7 linked regions of the Homo sapiens genome follow. The protein of the gene in region 4 purifies or fractionates together with the protein of the main gene of each other region. This does not show direct contact. Each region holds a gene or a part of one and is shown on either strand. Other genes may lie near its edges.

The links.
Region 1: the proteins of CCNT1 (region 4) and OXSR1 fractionate together in Homo sapiens (co-fractionation; one large-scale study listed by BioGRID). This does not show direct contact.
Region 2: the proteins of CCNT1 (region 4) and WDR82 purify together in Homo sapiens (affinity purification with mass spectrometry; one large-scale study listed by BioGRID and IntAct). This does not show direct contact.
Region 3: the proteins of CCNT1 (region 4) and PPIL4 purify together in Homo sapiens (affinity purification with mass spectrometry; one large-scale study listed by BioGRID and IntAct). This does not show direct contact.
Region 5: the proteins of CCNT1 (region 4) and PRP4K purify together in Homo sapiens (affinity purification with mass spectrometry; one large-scale study listed by BioGRID and IntAct). This does not show direct contact.
Region 6: the proteins of CCNT1 (region 4) and CDK11B purify together in Homo sapiens (affinity purification with mass spectrometry, with the first as the bait; one large-scale study listed by BioGRID). This does not show direct contact.
Region 7: the proteins of CCNT1 (region 4) and CPSF2 purify together in Homo sapiens (affinity purification with mass spectrometry; one large-scale study listed by BioGRID and IntAct). This does not show direct contact.

Annotation. Positions count from the first base shown.
Region 1 is NC_000003.12:38,168,537-38,172,036, forward strand, and holds part of OXSR1 (serine/threonine-protein kinase OSR1), read left to right. Parts: intron 1-3,500. UniProt on the Homo sapiens protein: Effector serine/threonine-protein kinase component of the WNK-SPAK/OSR1 kinase cascade, which is involved in various processes, such as ion transport, response to hypertonic stress and blood pressure.
Region 2 is NC_000003.12:52,258,150-52,261,649, forward strand, and holds part of WDR82 (WD repeat-containing protein 82), read right to left. Parts: intron 3,331-3,500; coding exon 3,231-3,330; intron 2,353-3,230; coding exon 2,236-2,352; intron 1,724-2,235; coding exon 1,568-1,723; intron 1,118-1,567; coding exon 1,048-1,117; intron 530-1,047; coding exon 387-529; intron 1-386. UniProt on the Homo sapiens protein: Regulatory component of the SET1/COMPASS complex implicated in the tethering of this complex to transcriptional start sites of active genes.
Region 3 is NC_000006.12:149,539,544-149,543,043, reverse strand, and holds part of PPIL4 (peptidyl-prolyl cis-trans isomerase-like 4), read left to right. Parts: intron 1-1,457; coding exon 1,458-1,525; intron 1,526-1,612; coding exon 1,613-1,677; intron 1,678-1,984; coding exon 1,985-2,102; intron 2,103-3,500. UniProt on the Homo sapiens protein: PPIases accelerate the folding of proteins. It catalyzes the cis-trans isomerization of proline imidic peptide bonds in oligopeptides.
Region 4 is NC_000012.12:48,696,208-48,699,707, reverse strand, and holds part of CCNT1 (cyclin-T1), read left to right. Parts: intron 1-1,524; coding exon 1,525-1,570; intron 1,571-3,469; exon of another isoform or gene 3,470-3,500. UniProt on the Homo sapiens protein: Regulatory subunit of the cyclin-dependent kinase pair (CDK9/cyclin-T1) complex, also called positive transcription elongation factor B (P-TEFb), which facilitates the transition from abortive to productive elongation by phosphorylating the CTD (C-terminal domain) of the large subunit of RNA polymerase II (RNA Pol II).
Region 5 is NC_000006.12:4,027,800-4,031,299, forward strand, and holds part of PRP4K (serine/threonine-protein kinase PRP4 homolog), read left to right. Parts: intron 1-3,500. UniProt on the Homo sapiens protein: Serine/threonine kinase involved in spliceosomal assembly as well as mitosis and signaling regulation. Connects chromatin mediated regulation of transcription and pre-mRNA splicing.
Region 6 is NC_000001.11:1,638,505-1,642,004, forward strand, and holds part of CDK11B (cyclin-dependent kinase 11B), read right to left. Parts: intron 3,498-3,500; coding exon 3,402-3,497; intron 3,317-3,401; coding exon 3,158-3,316; intron 2,610-3,157; coding exon 2,544-2,609; intron 1,949-2,543; coding exon 1,773-1,948; intron 87-1,772; coding exon 1-86. UniProt on the Homo sapiens protein: Plays multiple roles in cell cycle progression, cytokinesis and apoptosis. Involved in pre-mRNA splicing in a kinase activity-dependent manner. Isoform 7 may act as a negative regulator of normal cell cycle progression.
Region 7 is NC_000014.9:92,124,969-92,128,468, reverse strand, and holds part of CPSF2 (cleavage and polyadenylation specificity factor subunit 2), read right to left. Parts: intron 2,348-3,500; 5' UTR 2,289-2,347; intron 1-2,288. UniProt on the Homo sapiens protein: Component of the cleavage and polyadenylation specificity factor (CPSF) complex that play a key role in pre-mRNA 3'-end formation, recognizing the AAUAAA signal sequence and interacting with poly(A) polymerase and other factors to bring about cleavage and poly(A) addition.

The sequences.
Region 1 (3,500 bases), on a different chromosome or scaffold from region 4:
AAGATTTACCTGATTAAAATGTACAATTCAATAATCTTTTAGTAAATTTACATAATTGTTCAGTCATCACCACAATCCAATTTTAGAACATTTCCATCATTCCAGAAAGATGCCTCATGTCCATTTGCAGTTACTCCCTGTTCCCACCCCCAGCCCCAGGCAATCACAAATATACTTTCTGTCTCTATAGATTTGTCCTTTCTGGACATTTTATGTAAATGTAATCATATAATATGTGGTCCTTTGTGTTTGGCTTCTTTTACTTTCCATAATGCTTTTTGAGGTTCATCCATCTGCCATGTAGTACATGGTTCCTTTTTATTGGATACCAGTTAATGGGCATTGGATTGTTTCTGCTTTTTGGCTGTTTGGAACAAGGCTGCTTTGAGTATTCACATCAAGTCACCCCATGAATATGTTTCATTTTTCTTGGATGTATACCCAGGAGTGGAATTGCTGGGTTATATCACAAATTCAACTGTTTAAGAAACTGCCAAACTGATTTTCAAAGTAACTGTACCATTTTATGTTCCTACTAGTAATTATAAGAGTTCTTGTTTCTCTAAATTTGTTGTCTTTTTGCGTGTAACCATCCTAGTGACTATGAAGTGGTATCTCATTGTGGTTTTGATTTGCATTGCCCTAATGACTAATGATGATGAACATCCTTTCATGTCCTTATTTATTAGACTTTCATGGATCTTCTTTGGTGAAATATCTATTCAAATCTTTTGTCCACTTGGACTGCCCATTGGGTTGTTTTTTTTTTTGTTTGTTTGTTTGTTTTGAGATGGAGTCTTGCTCTGTTGCCCAGGCTGGGGTGCAGTGGTGCCATCTCGGCTCACTGCAACCTCTGTCTCTTGAGTTCAAGCAACTCTCCTGCCTCAGCCTCCTGAGTAGCTGGGGTTATAGGTGCCTGCCACCATGCCCAGCTAATTTTTGTGTTTTTAGTAATGATGGGGTTTCACCATATTGGGCAGGCTGGTCTCAAACTCCTGACCTCAGGTGATCCGCCTGCTTGGCCTCCCAAAGTGCTGGGATTACAGGGGTGAGCCACTGCGCCTGGCTGTTCGTTTTTTTTTTGAGTTATAGAAGTGTGTGTATGTGTGTTTGTATGTGTATTCATTCTGGGTATGCGTCGTTCATCTGATATATGATTTAATTTAAATATTTTCCTGTCTGTAGTTTTTTTTTTCTTCTCATTTTCTTTCTTTTTTTTTGAGACAGTCTTACTCTGTCACCTAGGGTGGAGTGCAGTGTCATGATCAGGGCTCACTCCACCTCCTGGGCTCAAGTGATCCTCCCACCCCTGCCTCCCAGGTAGCTGGGACTACAGGTACATGCCACCACGTTTGGCTAATTTTTGTGTTTTTTGTAGAAACTGGGTTTCGCCACATTTCCCAGGATGGTCTCAAATTCCTGATCGCTCAAGCGATCTGCCTGCCTCAGCCTTCCAGAGTGCTAGGATTACAGGCGTGAGCCACTGCGCTTAGCCTTCTTTAATTTTATTATTATTATTTTTTTTTGAGTTGGAGTCTTACTCTGTCGCCCAGGCTGGAGTGCAGTGGCATGATCTTGGCTCACTGCAACCTCCGCTTCCTGGGTTCAAGCAATTCTCCTGTCTCAGCCTCCCAAGTAGGTGGGATTACACATGCGTGCCACCACACCAGGCTAAGTTTTTGTATTTTTAGTAGAGACTGGGTTTCACCATGTTGGCCAGGCTGGTCTCGAACTCCTTACCTCAGATGATCTGCCTGCCTCGGCCTCCCAAAGTGTTGGGGTTACAGGTGTGAGCCCCCGCGCCTGGCCTCTTTCATTTTCTTAATGGAGTCTTTTAAAGTACAAAAGTTTTGAATTTTGATGTTTATCATTTTTTTCTTTTATTGATTTTGCTTTTGGTGTTGTATCTAAGAAATCTTTACTAACCCAACATTGTGAAGATTTTTTTTTCCTGTTTTTTTTTAAGTGTTAGTTTTAGCTCTTGCATTTAAGCCTCTGATACATACTGAGTTAATTTTTGTGTATGGTGTGAAGTAAGGTGAACCACCTTGTTTTACAGTTGAAGACACAGAGACAGAAAGGTAACATGACTGCTTAAAGCCATGTAGCTAATTAGAGGCAGAGCCAATACTGGCATCTGTGTCTCCTGTAGCCTAATTCGGGATCCTTGTTCCTGTATCTACATTGATTCGTTCTTGGATATAAACTGGAAGATGGGGGTCATTGTCTCACAGATTAAGGGAATGATCTCCCCTGCTTTTTTCTGAGAAGGGTCTCACTCTGTCACCCAGGCTGGAATGTAATCACAGCTCACTGTCTCACTGTATGAACTCCTGGCTCGAGTGATCCTCTTGCCTCGTCCTCCCCAGTAGCTGGACTACAGGCATGTGCCACCATGCCCGCCTCATTGTTTTATTTTTTTGTAGAGACAGGGTCTCATATGTTGTCCAGGCTGGTCTCTACTTCTGGGCTCAAGTGATCCTCCCACCTTAGCCTCCTAAAGTGTTGGGGTTTACAGGTATGAAGCACTGTGCCTGGCCAAGGGAAGTATCTATCCTTAGAGTGAAAAAAATCTGATGGATGTTCCACACCTGTCACGTCCTTCCAGTCTGCTCCTGACAGCCTCTCTCCATTTTCCCAACAGGGAGAAAAAAAATTTTTTTTCTTTGAGCTACAGCCTAGTATAAGTAGCAAGTTTCAGTAAAGCATTGTATTCTTATTCTAACTTTGCTTCCATACCAAAATGTTTGTTACATAGTATTTTATAATAAGCTATAGTCTTCAAAATGAATCTTTATGATTTCAGATTACACTCAACTTTTTCAGGAAACACATGATTAAAATCTAGAAAAAAGGGTTTGGGATCATTTAAATTTTGTTTTCAAAGGATTGTATTCTAGAGAAATCAGTGTAATGGTGTCATCTCCATCAAAACACGTACATTTATTTGAACTGTAACATGTTTATTTGAACTGTAATTTTTTTCACATTTGCTTCTCAGCAGTATACTATTTATGGGATTGTTTCTCACATTCTGTTTTGTTCTTCGTCTTTCTGGTAAAATCCTACAGAGAACAGAATCTCCTCTTAGGAACATATTAAAAGCCTATAGATTGAAAATTCAAAGGACTTTTTTTTTTTTTTAAAGAATTGTATCACCTTAAGCATGCTTTGGCAAGATTTGAAGTTCTTTAAGTATGATTATGTGTAAAAGATGTTAGTATCATTCTCACAATTAATCATTGATCTTTCAGTATTTTTGAGCCCTTAGTCTTAGATTAGAATTTCTGAGCATGTGTTATACTGTATTTGGCATGTGTTGAAGCAGCTGTAAAAATTTGGGCTTTGGGGTTAGACTGACCCAGATTCAAATCCTGACATTGCCTCTTACTAGTTATGTGATCTTAGACAAATTATATGATTAGTTTCCGTGTCAGCTTTTTGTCTGTATAGTGGGGAGAATAGTACCTATGTCACTGGGGCCGTTATATAGATTGAGT
Region 2 (3,500 bases), on a different chromosome or scaffold from region 4:
GAATTTGGCGTAAACCAACAGGAATGGAAAACTGAAACCACAAAAGGCCGGTTCAGAGTATTTTAAGGAGCAAAAAAATTGCCAAGCATAGCCCAGGTAGTTTGGACCTAAAATTAGGGTCCAGAGCAAAAACTGGCCTATGATCTCCTTGGAACTCAAAGATGATTCCTGATCACCTCTAGGAAGAATAAAAATGAAAGGCAAGACCAGCCCAGCCAGAGATCAAATAATAGGAGATGAAATAGGGAAACCACCAGTTGAGAAACATGTACTTGGATGCTTGTAATGTACCTATGTAGAACACAGCTTGCTGTGCTTGTTGAGGCACCCACCACCCCAACTGGGAAGGGTCCCTGAGTAGCAGATACCTCTTACTGTTCACATACCATGTTGGAACACGCACTGGCAAAAGTCATGAACTTGGGGTTGAATTGCAAACAGGTAATCGGGCCTGTGTGTTTACCATCCAACACAGCTACTTTTATACCGCTCTCTCCATTCCAGACATGGATCTTGCCATCCTCTGAACCTAAAGAGGATATTCACGGAAAATGTAACAGCTCAAGGCGCAATACAAAGACAACTGGAAATGAGACATGGATTGAGATCTGAGGATACGCCAAGCTTTAGGACCCATCCCTCAGGCAAAATTGAGAGGGAGGAGAGGCAGTGAAGGAAGGACACTTTGGAAATTTATCTTGACCCTAGCTATTTGTTCACAGGCATGTCACTTCCGTTCTAACTTCAGTTTTCTCATCTAAAAAAGGGGCCGAATACCATTACCCTACCAACAGGCAGCCACTAAGATGACTGAATGTAGGGTTACACCAGGACATTAGCATTACTAATAAGGTAGTGCTTGTGGAGTTTAACTCAAATTTTGGTCCAGTCAGGGCAGTTAAAAGACACTATGTCCTTGGCATAATGTGCTATACAGAAATCTAAGAACATCTATCAAATAGATAATAATGTCTCAGTTAATAATTTAAACAAAGAAATGCATAGTACCAGAGAAATAACCCCCACAGGGGATAAAAGGAAACTCACCAATCATAATAAACTGAGAGTCTGGAGTAAATGAAGCCTCCAGTGTGACAGCTTTGCTGTTGGCATAACCCTAAAACAAAACAGAGCAGTTCTTTTGTTCTTACAGAGCCATTAATAAAAACAGCTGCCTACAAACACTGACTCAGCACATGCATCACCTTCCTTTCCATGAAACCCTTTCCTTGTCATGTACTACACCACCAAGCTTCCAAATGTGGTTGCCATCGTTGACAATCCACTCCCACCCTCAACTCTGTATTCAAGGCATACTCAAGGGGGCAAGAAAACTTTATTGTTAGGAAATTATTTTATATCTAAATACCAAACTTGGGTCACTTGGTGAGAAATGAACATCTACGAAATCCAAGAGAGGTAAGTTCATGAGCAGGAAGAAAATACAAGTGCATGCCTTCATGAGTAAGTCAAGAGTAACTGTTGGTCTCCACCAACCAGCTAACATAATTCTTAGCATAGGAAGTATGAGCATGGAAACAGCCATGCTTGAAGGCTGTCAGCTCACCCCAAATGTGTGCATCACCACTCCTTTGAATGCATCAATCAGACGAATGAAGCTGCCGTTGGTGGAAATGAGGATGAGCTTGCCATCATTGCTGAATTTAAGTCCTGTCCACTCACAAGTTCGATCATACTGCATCTTAAAGGTAGCAAATGGCCCCTGCAAAAGATAAAAAACAGTAGCCCCAGGCATATTAATAATTTCTTCTGCTAGAGCCAATTCCCATCCTATTCCTTTAGATTACTTTTTGACTAAGGAAAGCAGAGAATGAGCTACTTCTCTGCCACTCTCTAATATCTACCACATTTTTCCTTTTGTAGAAAAGGCTCTTACAGGGCCGGGCGCGGTGGCTCACGCCTGTAATCCCAGCACTTTGGGAGGCCGAGGTGGGTGGATCACCAGAGGTGAGGAGTTTGAGACCAGCCTGACCAACATGGTGAAACCCATCTCTACTAAATACAAAAAATTAGCCAGGCGTGGTGGCGGACACGTGTAATCCCAGCTACTTGGGAGGCTGAGGCAGGAGAATCACTTGAACCTGGGAGGCAGAGGTTGCAGTGAGCTGAGATTACACCACTGCACTCCAGCCTGGGCAATAAGAGCAAAACTCTGTCTCAAAAACAAAACAAAACAAAAAACAGCTCAAAGATCTCAAAGATTCAAAGATTTACCTTATCAAAAGAACGAAGGTCATAAAGCTTGACCATTTCAGAGTTGACACCTGCAGCGAAAATTAACCCTTCTGGATCAAAAGAACAAACTGGCTTCCCCTGCAGATGCATGAGGCCCTAAGAGAAAAGAAATAAGAAATACACTAAAACACACATGCCACAACCATACGTGGAATAACCAAAGACTGCTGGTACAATGGGGAAAAAAAAATGAATCCAGGACCTTACCACTATATAATTTACTTTTCCCAATTAAAACTAAGAAAGGCATACAAACAAATATCAGCCTACCTACAGAACACACACAAAAAAAACATAAAACTAAAATGAAGCTTTTAAAAAACAGGTCTCCAGACAACAATTTCTGATCAACTCTAACTGCACAATATTACAGACACAGAATTCAAATAAAAATAAATCCCTTGAAGCTAAAAGCTCTAGGAACACTTTTAAAAACATTAAGCCAGCTGGGCGCAGTGGCTCACGCCTATAATCCCAGAACTTTGGGAGGCCAAGGTAGGAGGATCACCTGAGGTCAGGAGACTAGCCTGACCAACATGGAGAAACCCCGTCTCTACTAAAAATACAAAATTAGCCAGACATGGTGGTGCATGACTGTAATCCCAGCTACTTGGGAGGCTGAGGCAGAAGAATCGCTTGAACCCTGGAGGTGGAGGTTGCGGTGAGCTGAGATTGCACCATTGCACTCCAGCCTGGGCAACAAGAGCGAAACCCTGTCTCAAAACAAAAACAAAAACAAAACAAAACAACAAAAAACCCACAACAATTAAGCCACAGAGTACAATGCAATCTGCACTAGATTAGGGTATGTGCTTAGCAGCTACCAACTAAAAAAACAGATTTTCTCCAAAGTTTAAAAAGACCCTGTGATCCCAGAATGGAACCACTGTTTTCTCCCTTCTTTGAGAGGTAGAGTTCATTACAGTGCCTACCAAAGAAAATGCTCAAAAAGTATAACTGTGAGGTACCATTACCTGGCAGTTAGGAGACCGGAGATCCCAGAGTCGAATGGTCTTATCAAGAGACCCAGAAATGAAAGTGTCATCCACAGGTGACATGGACAAGGCCACCACCCTGCAATACATCGAGATAAATAGGAGTTGATGCGAAATATTAGCAAAAATTGGATGTGAATTCTAAACCACTCTGCCTATCTATACATATATATACCTGTTCTCCCAAAATTGCCATTTTAAGAAACACAATAAAACACACATACCACAACCATATCTGGAACAAACAAA
Region 3 (3,500 bases), on a different chromosome or scaffold from region 4:
TGCCTAAATTCATTATTTTTGTTTCTAGTAAAAGGACCACCCCTATCTGTTAAACATGAAGCCCAGAAATATATTCAAGAAAAACAACTGCAAGACTGATATTCAGCACTCTTCAACAGCTCAGCCCCATCTTATCTCTCCAGTCTTTTCATGCTCTATTACTGTGTAATACCAGACTATTACAGAACTTTGGTGTTTTGGACCTCCCCTAAAACATTTAAATTTCCACTTCCAGGCCTTTTCATAGTCTTCCAGACCTAAAATGCTCACCCTTCACTCTCTGCTAGTCCAGTTCTTTTAATGCTTGCCTTAACCTTCCCTGAGGTTTTCTAATTTCCCTAGCCAGAAACAATCTTTTGAACTCTTGTGGAATTTTTAAAACTACTTTTTTTACCATTTTAAATAAGTGGCACACATGTTATTAATTAGATATGCCCAGTATGTAACTACTTGTGTTCAGATGTAAGGACCCTAATTTAATGTAAGCTTTTTGAGGGCAGGGATTGCCTCATATATCTTACTGTCTGTTTGGTTTCTAACTTAGTGCCTTAAGAGCTTGTTAATGTGTCTTTCCACGACTAGACTGTGAACTTTTTGGGAGCAGGGACCACAGTTTAATGGCATTTGTGATGGCAGTGTCAGGCATCTAGAAGGTACTCAGTAAATGTTTATTGGATAAGCAGATTAACTTGTATGAGAAAGGTTGTTCATAAGTGTATGGATTTTTATAAAGGGCTGTTTAACTATTATTTAAAAAATGACCCCGGGTGTTTGACTTTTTCCTAATTGATATAATCCGTATCCATTTTTATATATTCTGCTAGATCCTTTTCTACTACAATATGCTCTTTAAGTGTTCTTTTTTCTCGTAATAAAATCAATCCATCAGTAAATGATTGCTTATAAGTGTCAGTTTTCTGTATTAGCCCAGATGCCCCAAAACTCCTATTAAAGGAAAAAAAAAGGTAATTTAAAATGTTTTTTTTCTAGACTTATTGCCCTTTTATTTTATTTTATTTTATTTTATTTTGAGATAGAGTCTTGCTCTATTGCCCAGACTGGAGTGCAGTGGTGCGATCTTGGTTCACTGCAACCTCCACCTCCTGGGTTCAAGTGATTCTCCTGCCTCAGCCTCCCTAGTAGCTGGGATTACAGGTGCCCGCCACCATGCCTGGCTAATTTTTTTTGGTATTTTTAGTTGAGACAGGGTTTCACCATATTGGCCAGGCTGGTCTCAAACTCCTGACTTCAAGTGATCCACTCACCTCCGCCTCCCAAAGCGCTGCGATTACAGGTGTGAGCCAGCGCCCGGCCTATTGCCCTTTTTTATAGCTTTGGACATTTGACTTTTTTTTTCTTTTAATAGTAATTTAGAAATTACATTTTACTGTGGCTTTACTTATTTAAAAATGTGTTTGTGGATTACTGTGATAAATTTGGTATTTACTTTCTTTCAGCCTGCTTGAATTTCTTGAAACTGTGCAAAATAAAATATTACAATTATTGCCTTATTCACAATGTACAGGTGAGTTGGTAGATATTAGTCATTTCCTTTGTTATTGGAACTATCTAACAAACTCTGTGAATTAACAAAGAATCCTACATATTACAGAGGGATTTTATCATACAAACTGGCGATCCTACAGGGACTGGCCGTGGAGGAGAGTCTATCTTTGGGTAAGTTGTTTTATTTATTTATTTATTTATTTATTTATTTATTTATTTACTTTTAACCTCTGGAAGGGCAGAACAAATTCTTTTATTCTTAAATGAGGAAAAATATAATTGCTCATGCTTCAATCTGCATTTTAAAATATGGTTTAAATTTAGATTTTTTCCCCCAAGTTCCCTAAAAAAAAAAAAGTAATATTTTGAATTCTGTTGGCATTTCTGTAAAGAAATAATTGATAACCCTGTATGTTACTAGTACTTCTGTATTTCATTTTGAGAGTACTTACATTTATAACCTTATATGTTTTTTCAGCCAACTGTATGGTGATCAAGCAAGCTTTTTTGAGGCAGAAAAAGTCCCAAGAATTAAGCACAAGAAGAAAGGCACAGTGTCCATGGTGAATAATGGCAGTGATCAACATGGATCTCAGGTTAGGAAATGAGTAAGAATATGAGATTTGCTTAGAAATGAAGGACTGGAAGGAGCCCACAGAGTTATTTTTTAAACTATCCAGTAAGGCTTAGAGGGTTTCAATCAGAAATATGTGTTAGGGGAAAAAATGCACTTTTTCTATATTAAAAAATATTATTTTCTTCTTTTAAATGTAAAGCATTCCTATTGTGAAGAATTGAGAAAATACAGAAAAGTACAAAGAAAAACATTACCTACAACTCCACCATCCGTGATTATCACTGTTCACATTTGTGGCTCATTTTTCAGTATTTCTTTTTATTTAATTAATTAATTTATTTTTATGAGATGTAGTCTCACTCTGTCTCCCAGACTGGAGTGCGATGGCACAATCCTCGGCTCACTGCAACCTCTCCCTCCCGGGTTCAAGCAATTCTCCTGCCTCGGCCTTCCGAATAGCTGGGATTACATGCGCCTGCCACAACACCTGGCTAATTTTTATATTTTTAGTAGAGACGGGGTTTCACCATGTTGGCCACGATGGTCTCAATCACGTGACCTCATGATCCGCCTGCCTTGGCCTCCCAAAGTGCTGGGATTACAGGCGTGAGCCACCGCGCCTGGCCGTTTTTCAGTATTTCTTACTTTTTTAAAAACATTACGCAGAGTACCTTCTATTCATTGTCTTGTTTAATTCTCCCAATGACCCTGTTAATTCTCCCAATGACCTACTTGTTAGAGTAGGTACTTCTGTTTTCTACTATATACACATGAAGTTGAGTCATGGCTTGTCTAAGTATTTTGTTTTATTTTATTTTATTTTATTTATTTAGAGACAGAGTCTTGCTCTGTCAGCCAGGCTGGAGTGCAGTGGTGTGATCTCGGCTCACTGCAACCTCCGCCTCTCAGGTTCAAGCGATTCTCCTGCCTCAGCCTCCCGAGTAGCGGGATTACAGATGCCCACCACCACGCTCGGCTACTTTCTGTATTTTTCGTAGAGACAGGGTTTTGCCATGTTGGCCAGGCTGGTCTCAAACTCTTGACCCCAGGTGATCCACCTGCCTTGGCCTCCCAAAGTGCTGGGATTACAGGTGTGAGCCACCGTGGCCGACCAAAAAATACTTTATTACTAACAAGTGCTTCTGATCATCTGAGCCTTCAGTAAATCATAATCTTTTTGCTGGTGAAGGGTCTTGCCTTGATGTTGATGGCCGTTGACTAATCTGGGTGGTGATTGCTGAAGGTTGGGGTGACTGTGGCAGCTTCTTAAAATAAGACAACTGACTGGCGTGGTAGCATACATCTGTAATCCCAGTACTTTGCGGGGGCAAGGCAGGCAGATGGGTTGAGCTCAGGATTTCGAGACCAGCCCAGGAAACATGGTGAAAACCCCATCTCCACAAAAAAATACAAAAAT
Region 4 (3,500 bases):
CAATACATAATAGTTCTGCTTTGGCTAAATTTAAAGGCCTACTTGGCTTAAATCAAAATGAGTTGTTCTGACTTGATGTTTTTCTGTTGGGTTCTTACAAGTAATATTTTTAGATGATCTCTAGTTAAAGAGAACTAACCTCTTGAGAATGTTTGTCAAAGTTGGGCAGTTTGTGAAGTTATTTAACAGAAATTTTATGAAAGTTGTGAGGAGTGGGTGATCTTATTTTAATTCTGGGGTTGATTAAAGGCCACCTAGAGGATCATACAGAATTTATTTGGACTTTCCATGATATACAATCCCTTGGCAGAACTTTTCTTTTTAATTCTAATTTAACAATATTAGGTATAATTGAATGAAACTCTCTTATTTAGTTTAGTATCAAGAATATCTGAACACTATTGTGCCTTTAAGTGCCTTTTATGATTTTTAGGCCAAACTGATAATTGGTCTTATTTTACATTTTACTAATATGTGTTTCCTGTGAAAATTCCCAAATTTTCCTGAGTTCTTTATATTTGAAAGTATTAAAATGTTATATTGCACAAGGATAAGACTAGAGATGGGTGTATGTTAATATTGAGAAGACTATGTCCTGAGGAAGATAAAAATTTGCTTTGTCACCCAGAACAGTTTGTTTTGGAAGAAGTTAAATTTTTTCATTGTAATATATTACATTATTTGATGATTTGGGGATTAATTAATTAAATCTTAATTAGGGCTACTTAATTAAAAACTTTTTTTTTTTTTTGAGACGGAGTTTTGCTCTTGTTGCCCAGGGTGGAGTGCAGTAGCACGATCTCAGCTCACCACAACCTCCGCCTCCCGGGTTCAAGCGATTCTCCTGCCTCAGTCTTCCGAGTAGCTGGGATTACAGGCATGCGCCACCACCCCAGCTAATTTTTTATTTTTAGTAGAGACGGGGTTTCTCCATGTTGGTCAGGCTGGTCTTGAACTCTGGACCTCAGGTGATCCGCCCACCTCGGCGTCCCAAAGTGCTGGGATTACAGGCGTGAGCCACCGTGCCCAGCCTTAATTAAAAACTTTCTTAACAGCAAAAGTCACTTTTCCCAAATATGTCAAAGTCTTCTAGATTCTGATCTTGCTTCTAGATCATCTTAGTTCATCCTGTAGTTTAGTGATTCTCAGTGAATCCTTACATCAGAATCTCTGGGTTACTTGTTAAAAAATGCTTGCACCCTTCTCCAAACATTTAATTAAATTTTAGGGAGCAGGTCCAAGAATTGCATTTAAACAAGTACCTCAGATATGTGGTGTGCAGAATAAAGCTTGAGTACCTAGATCTGGAAGCAGCATAGTTATTAATGTTAAAATTAAAAATCATTGATCTGTCTACTTTGGCAGAATGTAAACGTCAGGTTTACAGGGACCATGTGTGTCTCATTTGCCACTATATTCACAGTACCTTGCAAATATTAAATGCTTACTAAATATTTGTTGAGAATGAATGGAACTAATAACTTTTTTCCTCCCCCACCCCTGACTTTTTTTTTTTTTCTTTAGCAAGCAAGGACTTAGCACAGACTTCTTACTTCATGGCAACCAACAGGTTTATATTTTAATTTTTTTTTCTCTTCGATTTTTGGTATAGGACTTTACTTGAGTTTGATACAGTGTGCTATAGATAATTCTCTGGTGAATGTTGATTTTTCTGCACAGTTTTCATGTTGTACTTTAAATTTCCATGGTACTTTTTAATTTTCTAAGGTTATGTAATTATTTAGTACTGATTTTTTTGATAACCTACTCAGTTCTGCATGATAGTGACTGAAAATCTAATTTGGAGTATTCTGCAATAATTATATGTGTATATATATATATATATATATATTTTTTTTTTTTTTTTTAAATTATTATTATTATTTTTTGAGACAGAGTCTTGCTCTGTTGCCCAGGCTGGAGTGCAGTGGCACAATATCAGCTCACTGCAAGCTCCACCTTCCAGGTTTACACCATTCTCCTGCCTCAGCCTCCCGAGTAGCTAGGACTACAGGTACCCGCCACCACGCCCAGCTAATTTTTGTGTTTTTAGTAGAGATGGGGTTTTACCTTGTTAACCAGGATGGTCTCGATCTCCTGACCTCGTGATCTGCCCACCTCAGCCTCCCAAAGTGCTGGGATTACAGGCATATATATATATATATATATATATTTTTTTTTTTTTAAGACAGAGTCTCACTCTGTCTACCAGGCTGGACTGAAGTGGTGCGATCTTGGCTCACTGCAACCTCTGCCTCCCGGGTTCAAGTGATTCTCCGGCCTCAGCCTCTTCACTAAGCTGGGATTATAGACTGGCGCCACCATGCCCCGCTAATTTTTTTGTATTTTCAGTAGAGATGGGGTTTCGCTATGTTGACTAGGCTGGTCTCAAACTCCTGGCCTCAAGTGATCCGCCTGCCTTGGCTTCCCAAAGTGCTGGGATTACAGGTGTAAACCACTGTGCCTGGCCAATAATTATATTTTAAAATATTCCTTTTTCTTCCCCCTCTATCAATCAATGGGCACTTATGGATGTTAAGAGTTTCAGTCTTTTTCCTTCTTCCCTTTTTAAAAAAAGTAAATGAGACTGGGCACAGTGGCTCATACCTGTAATCCCAGGCTGAGGCTGGTGGATCACTTGAGGCTAGGAGTTCGAGACCAACCTGGCCAACATGGTGAAACCACATCTTTACTAAAAAATACGAAAATTGGCAGGGCAAGGTGGCACATGCATGTAGTACCAGCTACTCGGGAGGCTGAGGCACGAGAATTGCTTGAACCCAGGAGGCAGAGGGTGCTGTGAGCCGAGATTGCCCCACTGCACTGCAGCCTGGGTGACAGAGAGAGAGACTCTGTCTAAAAAAAGTAAATGATTAGTACATAACTTGTATTACCAAATGACTTGCCCAACATTGTTAGTTAATGGAAACCAATGATATCCCTAGTAACTGTCAGGGCTAAGAAGTTCATTTTTATAGCCTGTTACGAAAAAGTTTTGAAATAAACCAACATATTTATACTTGAGAGAGTAGTTGTCTGTTTATTATTTTAAATAGACCAGAACTATGATTGGTGAGAGACAAATTATTTTTAAGATATTTCCTTAAGTTTTTGATTTACGGATTACACAGACCAAAAAGCTTACAATTTTCCTTAGGATCTGAGCTTAGTCTCAGGATAATAGGTAATAAATATTGACTTCTAGGCTTGAATACTGGCCCAGAAGTCAATGTTTTAAAGAACTTGAATTCCCAGCCTTTTTCCTTTTTTCCTTTTTTTTTTTTTTGGCTCTGGTCAATGTGTAGATTAAGTGATGTGTAATTCAAGAGTTTTTAAAATGTTGTTACCTGAACAGGTGGGTTAATAGGAAATTATATTGAGTGCTAGATCAGAGCATTGCATATTTCTTACCCTTCTTACTCTCCTGTCTATTTTTAAGCCTTTTTTTTTTTTTTTTTTTTTTTTTTTAAATAATGGAGAGTTTTAGCTTTGGGCTGAGA
Region 5 (3,500 bases), on a different chromosome or scaffold from region 4:
CTCCAGAGACTGCTTAACCACTCAGCTGTCCTTTGTCTTGAGGACAGTCTTGAGTTAAAACTCAAAACTTTAGGTAATTTTGAATTTGAGCTTAGTGACTAGAATTTTGTACTTTGGGCACTTAGATTTTATACGCCTAAAGATCATTCTCAATCTTTAAAGACTCTCCTACCTTCATAACTTGAATTAGCCTAAATTTTTCTCAGACTTTTCCCCCTATAAGTCAAGGTTCAGGAAAAAAAAGACCTTCTGGATTATGGGATGGGAGATTTCTGGGGACAAAGGATGAGAATATAGCCTATATAAAGAACAAAGTTGAAATGTCTTGGAATCTTTTTACTGAAATCTATGTGACTTCTTTCCCTTCCATAATAAAACAATGATGGTGTTTTGTTTTTTGTGTGTGTTTGAGATAGGGTCTTCCTTTGTTGCCCAGGCTGGAGTGCAGTGCATGATCATGACTCACTGCAGCCTTTAACTCCTGGGCTCAAGTGATCCCCTCCTGGGTTCAAGTGATCCTACCTCAGCCTTTTGAGTAACTGGGACTACAAGCACATGCTGCCATACCCAGTTAATTTAAATTTTTTTGTAGAGATAGGATCTCACCATGGTCCCCAGGCTGGCCTTGAACTCCTGGGCTCAAGGAATCCTCCCACTTCAGCCTCCCAAAGTGTGGGCTTACAAGTGTGAACCACTGCACATGGCCTGGTGGTGTTTTTATAATACCAAGATACTGCACTTTTTCCAAGTCTTTGAGAAAAATTAATGATCCAGAGAACACTACTGTATTTGTCATGTGTCTTCTCATACTCCATTAGGGAGAAGTCAACCCAAATTAAAACCTGACTTTCACCAGAGGACGTAGCTTCTTCTGCACATCTCTTAAATACCTTTTCCTGCCAGAAATGGAAGTTGGCAATGTGACATCCAAAAATCAAAGTTCTTTGAGTATGGTACCCTGTAGTGGCTATGTGTTTTTCACTCCCCCTCATTGTTGTCAACTAATTAGTAACTTCTCAGTCATACCGCCATTCTCTCTCCCCCACCCCTTCTCCCAGCAAGTTTATTCAAGACTATGAGACCTGGCTAGACAACGTACTTTTGCAGTTCCTGGGCCTCTGTGACTCCAGTGAACCTTTAATTCTCTCTCAACTACCCACTCCTAGAACCATATATTATCTTGTTATCTCCTGGAATTGGTCTACTTGGAATCTTTTTTTTTTTTTTTTTTTTTAATGAGATGGAGGATTCTCTCTGTTGCCCAGGCTGGAGTGCAGTGGTGTGATCATAGGTCATTGCAGCTGCAAACTCCTGGGCTCAAGTGATCTTCCACCTCAGCCTCCTGAGTAGCTGGGACTACAGGTGTGCACCACCATGCCTGGCTCCACTTGGAATCTTTACCTCAGTGTCTTTCACAACACTGATCGACTTGAAGTTTGCTATATATAACTGCCTTTTGTCACCTTCTTTCTCTATTTGAAATGCCCCTTTTTCCCTTCTTGTTAATTCCTTACTCATTCTCTAGGGCGGTGTTACTCAATTTTTTTTTTTTTTTTTTTTTAAAGACAGGGTCTTGCTCTGTCACCCAGGCTGGAGTGCAGTGGCCCCATCATGGCTCATTGCAGCCTTGACCTCCCAGGCTCAAGTAATCCTTCCACCTCAGCCTCCTGAATAGCTAATTTTTTTTATTTTTAGTAAAGATGAGGTCTCACCTAGCTAATTTTTTTATTTTTAATAAAGATGAGGTCTCACTCTGTTGCCCAGGCTTGTCTCGAACTCCTGGGTTCAAGTGATCCTCCTGCCTTGGCCTTCCATGGTGCTGGGATTACAGATGTGAGCCATTGTGCCTGGGCCAACCTTTATTTTTTAATCCCTGTCCTTTCTCAGTAAACGTTTCTTCTTTCCTCCTAACATCCCTGCTTAACAAATTGGTTTCTTTCTGTGATCTACAAAACAGTGTCCCTGACCGTTCTCGAAATTAGTTTAGGTGATCCTTCAGTGTTCCCATAATGCCCCTATTTGTGTCTTCATCATTGCACTTCTCCAGTATTTTATGGTTATGTCATGTGACTTAGTTTTCCACCAGACATTAATTTCTTTGAAGGAGGCAGATACTGGTTTTGTAATCTGTTTTCTTTCTTTTTTTTTTTTTTTTGGTTTTGAGACTGCGTCACACTGTGTCACCCAGGCTGGAGTGCAATGGCGCAATCTTGGCTCACTGCAGCCTCCGCCTCCCAGGTTCAAGAGATTCTCCTGCCTCAGCCTCCCGAGTAACTGGGATTATAGGCATGTGCCGCTACATCTGGCTAATTTTTGTATTTTTAGTAGAGAGGGGGTTTCCCCATGTTAGTCAGGCTGGTCTTGAACTCCTGACCTCAGGTGATCTGCCCACCTTGGCCTCCCAAAGTGCTGGGATTACAGACGTGAGCCACCATGCCTGGCTTGTACATCTGTTTTCCTGCCGCGTGGCTTAATGCTTACCCATGGTTGGTGAGTTTTTTTTAAATGTTAAAGAGATTGTGAGTAGACAGATGAATTCTTAGGTTGCAAGGATAAACTTACTAAAAGTATAGGAGTATATAATATGAAGACCTGACAAAATAATCCATAGCTTCCTCCAAAAATAGTATGATGGCCTGAATCTAGATAATTTAAGGCCACTTTTGGTCTGATATTCTAGGATGATGGTTTATTATGGAGTAACTTTTAAAGAGAAAGTTAAATAGTGCTTTTGAACCAGTATTTAACTTGGGATTCTTAAACACCAAGGGCTCGACAACGTAATTTAGAATCATAAACTTTTTAACTCAGCATAAGCCAAACATTTAAGCACAGAATCCCCCACTTTATTTATTTATTTCCATAGCATCTGTTAATGTAAATGTATTTTGGGAAACTGAGTTCTCATTTGAAATTCAGAGAGATTAAATCACTTGCTGAATGAATATTGGGCTGTACTGTATTAAATTACTGATATTAGACTTGTTGACTTACAAAAGGCCCTTCCATGTGGTTCAGCCTAATGTCGTATGATTGCTTACTACAAGCCTAGAGTCCTAACTTCCGGTTTAGTTCACTTTGAAGATTCAACTTGTGAGGATGTGTTTATACTATCACCATCATCAGTATCAGCTACCAATGCACATTGATTGAGTGCTTATTTTGGGTATAGCTCAGTATTGGCTCTAGAGTTTTGTTTTGTTTTGCTTTGTTTTTAAGGTATAAGATGAAATCTGCTCAAAACAAGTGACCTGCTGGGTTTACTGTAGAGACACCAAGTTTCATGAATTTCAAGTGGAGAAGGAGATTAGTCTTCCAGTGTATGTTAATAGTTAGTAGGTCTTATTAAAAAAGAAAACGGGCCCTTTGGTTGTTAATGTGTGAGAAATGTTGGTTTAAAAATTAAGTTACTGAGTGGCTTCTTGTACTAAATCAATGTTAATGAGGTTTTGCTGTGCCTGGTTTGCTTTTCCCTTTTTCTCTAACCTGTACTTTTTAAG
Region 6 (3,500 bases), on a different chromosome or scaffold from region 4:
TTCTTGTCTTTTGCTCTGTAGACCACTCCATAGGTGCCCTCCTCGATCCTGTTCAGGCACTGGAACTCCTCGACGCTCCGGCAGCCCTGGGAAGGAAGCGCCTGTGTGAGGTCTCAGTGGCCATGCCAGCTGGAGGGAGGGCGGCTGCGTCCACAGGCACGGCACACCCGGCACGGGGCAGGTGCAGGGCAGAGCCTTGGGACTGGGCCGGGGGTGGAGCCGGGAGCAGCTCAGTTCTTTCAAAGTCTCTTTCCTTGCAAAACCATCTGACACTTTATTATGAAACAAAACCAGTGTGAACAAAAGGCCATCCCAGCCAGGTGCAAGGGCTCAGGCCTGTAATTCCAGCACTTTGGGAGGGCAAGGCAGGAGGACTGCTTGAGCCCAGGAGTTCAAGACCAGCCCGGCCAACATAGCAACACTCTGTTTTCTATTTTTTTTTTTTTTTTTTTTTGAGACGGAGTCTCGCTCTGTCACCCAGGCTGGAGTGCAATGGTGAGATCTCGGCTCACTGCAACCTCCACCTCCTGGGTTCAGGCGATTCTCCTGCCTCAGCCTCCCTAGTAGCTGGGAGTATAGGTACGCACCACCACGCCAGGCTAATTTTTGTATTTTTAGTAGAGACAGGATTTCACCATATTGGCCAGGCTGGTCTCGAACTCCTGACCTCTGATCCGCCCACCGCCTCGGCCTCCAAAAGTGCTGGGATTACAGGTGTGAGCCACTGTGCCCGGTCAAAACTCCTTTCTACAAAATAAAAAAATTAGCCAGGCATGGTGGCTTGCGCCTGTAGTTCCAGCTACTCAGGAGGCTGAAATGGGAGGATTGTTTGAGCCTGGGAGGGGGAGGCTCCAGTGAGCTATGATTAAGCCACTCCACTCCGGCCTGGGTGACAGAGACAGACCCAGTCTCCAAAAAAAAAGCCATCCCAAGAGTCTCTTTGTCAAACTGGATGTGTCCCCTGCTTGTACCAGGATGACACTGAGGACGGGCCCTACCTGCCAGGCGCAGCATGATGCCCCATGCCAGGGCACCTACCCCTCCGTGTACCTTGGGGCCGGTGCCCAGGCCGGATGTCATGTACTCGGGGTGGCCTGTGGCCCGACGCCTACGCTCAGCAGCACTAAGGGGCAGAGGCGCTCACAAGGCATAGGGCAGTCGACAGAGGCCTGCTGCATGCGCCAGAGAGAACCTCTCCGCCCACAGGCACCAAGGAGGGGGCCGAGTCCCTGCCGGTCTCCCAGGCCCCAGAGGCCACTGGCACCTTCTCAGGCTTGTCCCTTCCAAATCGCTCCCAACAATATCCTGCCTTATTGATAGCTGCCTAAGCAAAAGGCTTCTGGTCACACATCTACACTGACTCCCGTAGCCGCTCCCCCATCCAAGCCCTGCACAGATGCCGGTAACAAGGCCTTGGTGCCTACATAACCCGCCCACGCAGGGGTCAAGTGGAAGGCACTGCTCTCCAGTGCGGAGGAGGACGCAACTCGGGCAGCAGTGACAGCAGCGCGGCCGCACGCCCAGGCTGCCTTTCAAGCCGCAGAGCAGTCCTGCGGGCAGCTCCCTGTCCACCCAGTTCCGTCCAGCATGAGAAAGAGGCGGGACCTAGAAGCATGAGGGGCCAGTGGCTGTGCCCGCCCGTCACTGCCCCAGTGGGCCCAGCAGCCCTGTGAGGCGACAGACGCCAACACGGGGGCCAGGCTTCGCTCAGCCCCTGTGGTAACTCCGACTGCCAATGCGGACAGTGGCCCGGGGCGAGGGGAGGGCCTGACCTGCAGGGCCGGCAGGTACTTGGGCAGCTCCTGCTTGAGCTCGATGGGCGACAGGGCAGGGGAGTCGGGCACATAGTCGCCCTCTGTCAGGGCGCTGCTCTGCGGCGTTCCCTCACCCACTTCTTCCTCTGCTTCTTCACTCTCCCCGGAATCTCGGTCGAACCGTGACTCTGGAACTGGAAAAGTTGAACCTAATTACGAAGCTAGGAGTAAGCAAGGATCATGAACCTCCTCCTGCCCCGGGGGCATCAAGCGCGTGGCAGGGCTGCCCCGTGTCCCGCTGGGAGGTGCTGGCGCTGGGCTCTCGTCCCCTGGACACAGGGCACCGAGGCCTAAGAGTGCTGGCAGGCTCGGCTGAGACAGAGCCCGGATGCTGAGCTGGGAGGAGGCGTCGGGTGTCATGTGGGGGACAAGCCCACATCCACGTCCACCAGGCTGAGGACATAACCTCACTGCCTGTCGGAGGCTGGGCCAGGCCTCTGCTCTGCAGGGACAGGCCCGGAGCCACCATCTGACGGGCCTCCCCTGTGGGGAACTGGTCCTGGGCTTCCCAGCTCCTCGGCCCTGCTGGGCACTCAGGACGCCCTTGGTCAGCACTGTGCCTCGCTGAGGAATGCGGGCCCCACCGGCACAGCCTGGAGCGGCCAACGAATCAGGCGGCCTCCCAGACCCTGGCGTGCCCCACGCTGCGCAGGACCGGCTGTCTTAGGAGAGGGCTGCTGCACTCGGAGACAGACAAGGAGGGGGCTCTGTCTCCAGGGAGGTTCTTACCAACCAAGAGGTGGTTTTCATTTTCTCGTTCTTCATCTTCACTCATTTCTTCCTCACTTACTTCTTCTGCAAGAGAAAGGAGGCGTCTGCTCAGACCAGCACCGGGGCGAGTGCTGCCACAGGCAGGATGCGGGCTCCGCTTCAGCTAAGCAACAAGTGTTCCCAAGAATGGATATGCAGGCCGGGCGCGGTGGCTCACGCCTGTAATCCCAGCGCTTTGGGAGGCCAAGGCGGGTGGATCACCTGAGGTCAGGAGTTCGAGACCATCCTGGCCAACGTGGTGAAACCCCGTCTCGACTAAAAATAAAAAAATTATCCGGGCGTGCTGGCGCACACCTGTACTCCCAGCTACTTGGGAGGCTGAGGCGGGAGGATCACTTGAACCCGGGAGGCAGAGGTTGCAGTGAGCCGAGATCATGCCACTGCACTCCAGCCTGGGCAACAGATCAAGATTCCATCTCAAAAAAACAAACAAAAAGAATCGATGTGGAGGTGTCCCGAGAGAGTCCTAGATAGAAGGGAGTTTCAACTCCCCCGCCCGCCAGCTACTTCTCTGCGGTTTCTAACACTATAGTGAAGTCACAACACCTCACATAGTCGTCGCGGTGCCTCACCGGCAGACTGCTCTGATGCCTCCTCAGAGTTGCTGCCGGTCTCCTCCTCCTCCTCTTCCTCTTCCTCCTCCTCCTCCTCTGATTCTTCACTGGTGCTCCCTTCCTCCTCCTCCTCTTCCTCCTCCTCCTCTTCTTCCTCAGAACCTGAGCCTGATTCCGCTGTAGAAAGACAGCAGAGCAGAGGGTGAACCTGGGCCTTCCTGGGCAGCAGTGGTCAAGGCCTTGGCCAGGCGGTTCCAGGTACCTGACGAGGACTCGGCCGAGCTGGTCTTCCTCTCGCTGTCGCTGATGTCCTGTAAGTCGGACAGCAGGTCCCTTTCTTCCATTTTCTCTTCTTTTACTT
Region 7 (3,500 bases), on a different chromosome or scaffold from region 4:
ACTCTGTTGCCAGGCTGGAGTGCAGTGTCACGATCTTGGCTCACTGCCACCTCCATCTCCCGGGTTCAAGTGATTCTCCTGCCTCAGCCACCTGAGTAGCTGGGACTACAGGCATGCACCACCACGCCCAGCTAATTCTTTTTGGTAGAGACGGAGTTTCACCATGTTGGCCACAATAGTCTCGATCTCTTGACCTCATGATCCACCTGGCCCATTTTTTTTCTTTTTTTTTTGAGACAGAGTTTCACTCTTGTCACCCAGGCTGGTATACAGTGGCAAGATCTCAGCTCACTGCAACCTCCACCTCCTGGGTTCAAGTATTTCTCCTGCCTCAGCCTCCCGAGTAGCTGGGATTACAGGCACCTGCCACCACACCTGGCTAACGCTATTTGCTCTTTAAATTCATGGCCAAAGGCCTCAAACAGGCCGTAAGTATTACCCTTCAATCTGACTTTTCTTAGTAGGTTGACTTTCAGTTTCTGAGACTACTACTCCACACCTCCTCCTCTTTGTTCAAAGATCACCCATCCCTCCCTCCACCCTAGTCTCAGCTGATAATCTCATTTCATTCTTCAATCAGAAAATAAAATTAGACAATAATTTCTCATTTTCCAGATACTACATCTATTAACCTATCTGCATGTACACTGTTGGGTCTCCTGTTGTATAGAATAGTCCTGCTCCCATCCAAGGCCAATCCCTCTATGTGTGCCGTTGATCCCATTCTTATTCACCTTCTGAAAGACTTGACATCTTCAGTCATTCGCTCTTTCCCCTGCATCAACGTATCACTGATGTACCATTCCCACAAGCTTATAAAAATACTCTAGAATTTCCCAACTTATAAGAACCCTCTCTTAACCCTTCAACCCCCAACAACCACTACATCATTTTTGGGTTTCCCTTTCACAGCAAAAGTTCTCAGAATATTTGTCCACAGATATATCTCCACTTCCTCACCTCCCATTTGCACTAAGTCTGAGAAGCCAGAGAAATGTCCATTGGCTTAAGTTGTATAGAGGTTTATCAATGACCTTTATAAAACACTTCCAGTGATATACTTTCATAACAACTCATTATATTTCTCAAATTTTCTTCTCTCTTCACTGTGACCAAAACCTCTAACTTTTATATATATTTTCCCTGTCTCTAATTTATTCTGAGTCATTCTCAGAGGTAGTCATTCTCTGACCACCCTAAAGTCCTTCTTCACATCCATTACAACATCATTCTATTTCCCTCAAAATACTTAGTGCTCTCTAATTGCTACTTATTTATTTACTTGCTTTGTCTGTCACCTTCTCCCCTCCTGTGCCCACACTGGAATGCAGACTCCATGAAGGTAAAGACCTTCTCTGTTTTCATCACAGTTACATTCCAGCGCCTCCACAGTGCCTAATATACAGTGGTAGCCGATAAATGTTTCTTAAAGGAAGGAATGGGGCATGGCTAGTATTAAATAAGCTCACTGTCCTTACCACACCATAAACCAGAACCCATCCACATGTATTTGCCCTTGCTTGGGAGAGCTCTCTGAGTACAGGAGTTGGCTTGATCCATTTTTTTATCCTTAGTACATTAGCACATCCCTGCACATAGTGGTTGTTCAATAAATAACTGTTGGTAAGTTAAAATTTAAAATATATTGACTTGTTTTTGTTTCCTGAAACAGGATCTTGCTCTGGTACCCAGGCTGGAGTGCAGTGGTGCAATCATGGCTCATTTGCAGCTTCAACCTCCTGGGCTCAAGTGATCCTCCCACCTCAGCCTCCTGGGTAGCTGGGACTACGGGCACGCACCACCACACTCGGCTAATTTTTTGTAGAGACAGGGTTTCACTATGTTGCCCAGGCTGGTCTTTAACTCCTGGGCTCAAGTGATCCACCCACCTTGGCCTCCCCAAATGCTGGAATTACAGGTGTGAGACAGCACGCCTGGCCTTCATGTGTTCTTATTTGGGGTACAAAGACATTAATTCTCTATTTGATGAAAAACGTTTATAAATACAATTTTGGAAAGGACCTTGGAAATTATCCCTGTCAAAAAGCTTACTGTACCACAATTATATTAATGGCCTAAGGGAAACTCTTTTCTACTTAAGTCTTCCTTAATTCCCACTTTCTTCATTTAGATTATGAAGTAACATGCAAGGTATCTTGCAGCTAGAACTGAGTAAGTTCATATTAAAACTGTTTTGCAGACAGACCAAGATTTCAACAGATGAAAAGATATTTTCACTACAATTATTCATAATAAAGCTATATCTTTATCAAACATTCACTACTTACTGATATCTTAGTCGTATATATGATGAAACACCAGGAATTCTGAAGAGTTCTTTATTAATCTAAAAAATAAATAAAAGCCTTATGAATGTGGTATTATGATTTCATTCTGTTTATAATTATGGTGTTTAATTTGTATCTTGCCCTAAGGCATCAGGAGCAGCAGCAAGTAGTATAATACGTGGTCCTTTTTTAAAAAAGAGATCTGTCATTAATTTTAGGAATCTTAAGCTTACATAACAGATAATAAAAGACATAAAAATATTTAGGAAGTTTTTTTTTAAGTTGACATTACCTTATGTTATTGAGAATCATAGAAGAGGTGGGATTTAAGATTACTCACTAAGGATTGGTAAGACATGGGTAGAAACAAAGAGAAGGTACTCAAAACAGAGGAGTAACAGGAGTAAAGGAATACCAGACATCTCAGATCTCTACACTTTTGAGTAAGTTTTAAAGTACCAGTGAAAAAACTAGCCTGGAAAACATTCACAAAAGCAAAAAATAAAAGATAAGGCCTAATGAACAGAAAGGGGCCAGATAGTGAAAGGCCTTGGAAACTGTGAACCTAGTCCTGCAGGCAACAGAAACATTTTAAGACTCATTATCAAGTAGAAAGATGGCATGATACAGGTAATTCTGTATTTTGGGGATATTAGCTGGTGTGTATGATTGATGAGATGATACAGAAAGCAGGGAGATAAAAAGCGAAAGTATTTAGTGGACCACCCCTTCCTAACGTTACTGATTCTATCTTGTGACCAAATTTCTTCAGTCTCAAATTGTATTTTATAGCTCTGCGACATGAATATATTAGTTGTTATCTAAGTAACCAAGGTTTGAAATGCTACATGCTGATTCTTCACTTCTGGGACAGTCTATTATTACCAGTTCCTGATTATTCTTCCCTCAGGAACGCTTTGCACATCATTCCCTTTCTATCCCACTGCCAGTACCCTAATACAGGAAGGGCCTCACTACCTTATGTTTGGGTTTCTCAGTTTCTCTGCCTCCAGTATTTCCTCCCTTCATCCAACCTAAACATTGCTACCAGATTCATCTTCAGAAATACCCTGCACCTATTACCCCTTGCTCAGAAATCTCTGAAGGCTTCTTACTGCTTGAGAAAAGACAAACCAAATGCCTTAACTGGCAATGGAGGTTGCCAGGAAGCCACCCTGACATCACTGCTCAATGTCTTCAGGCCCAGCTCAT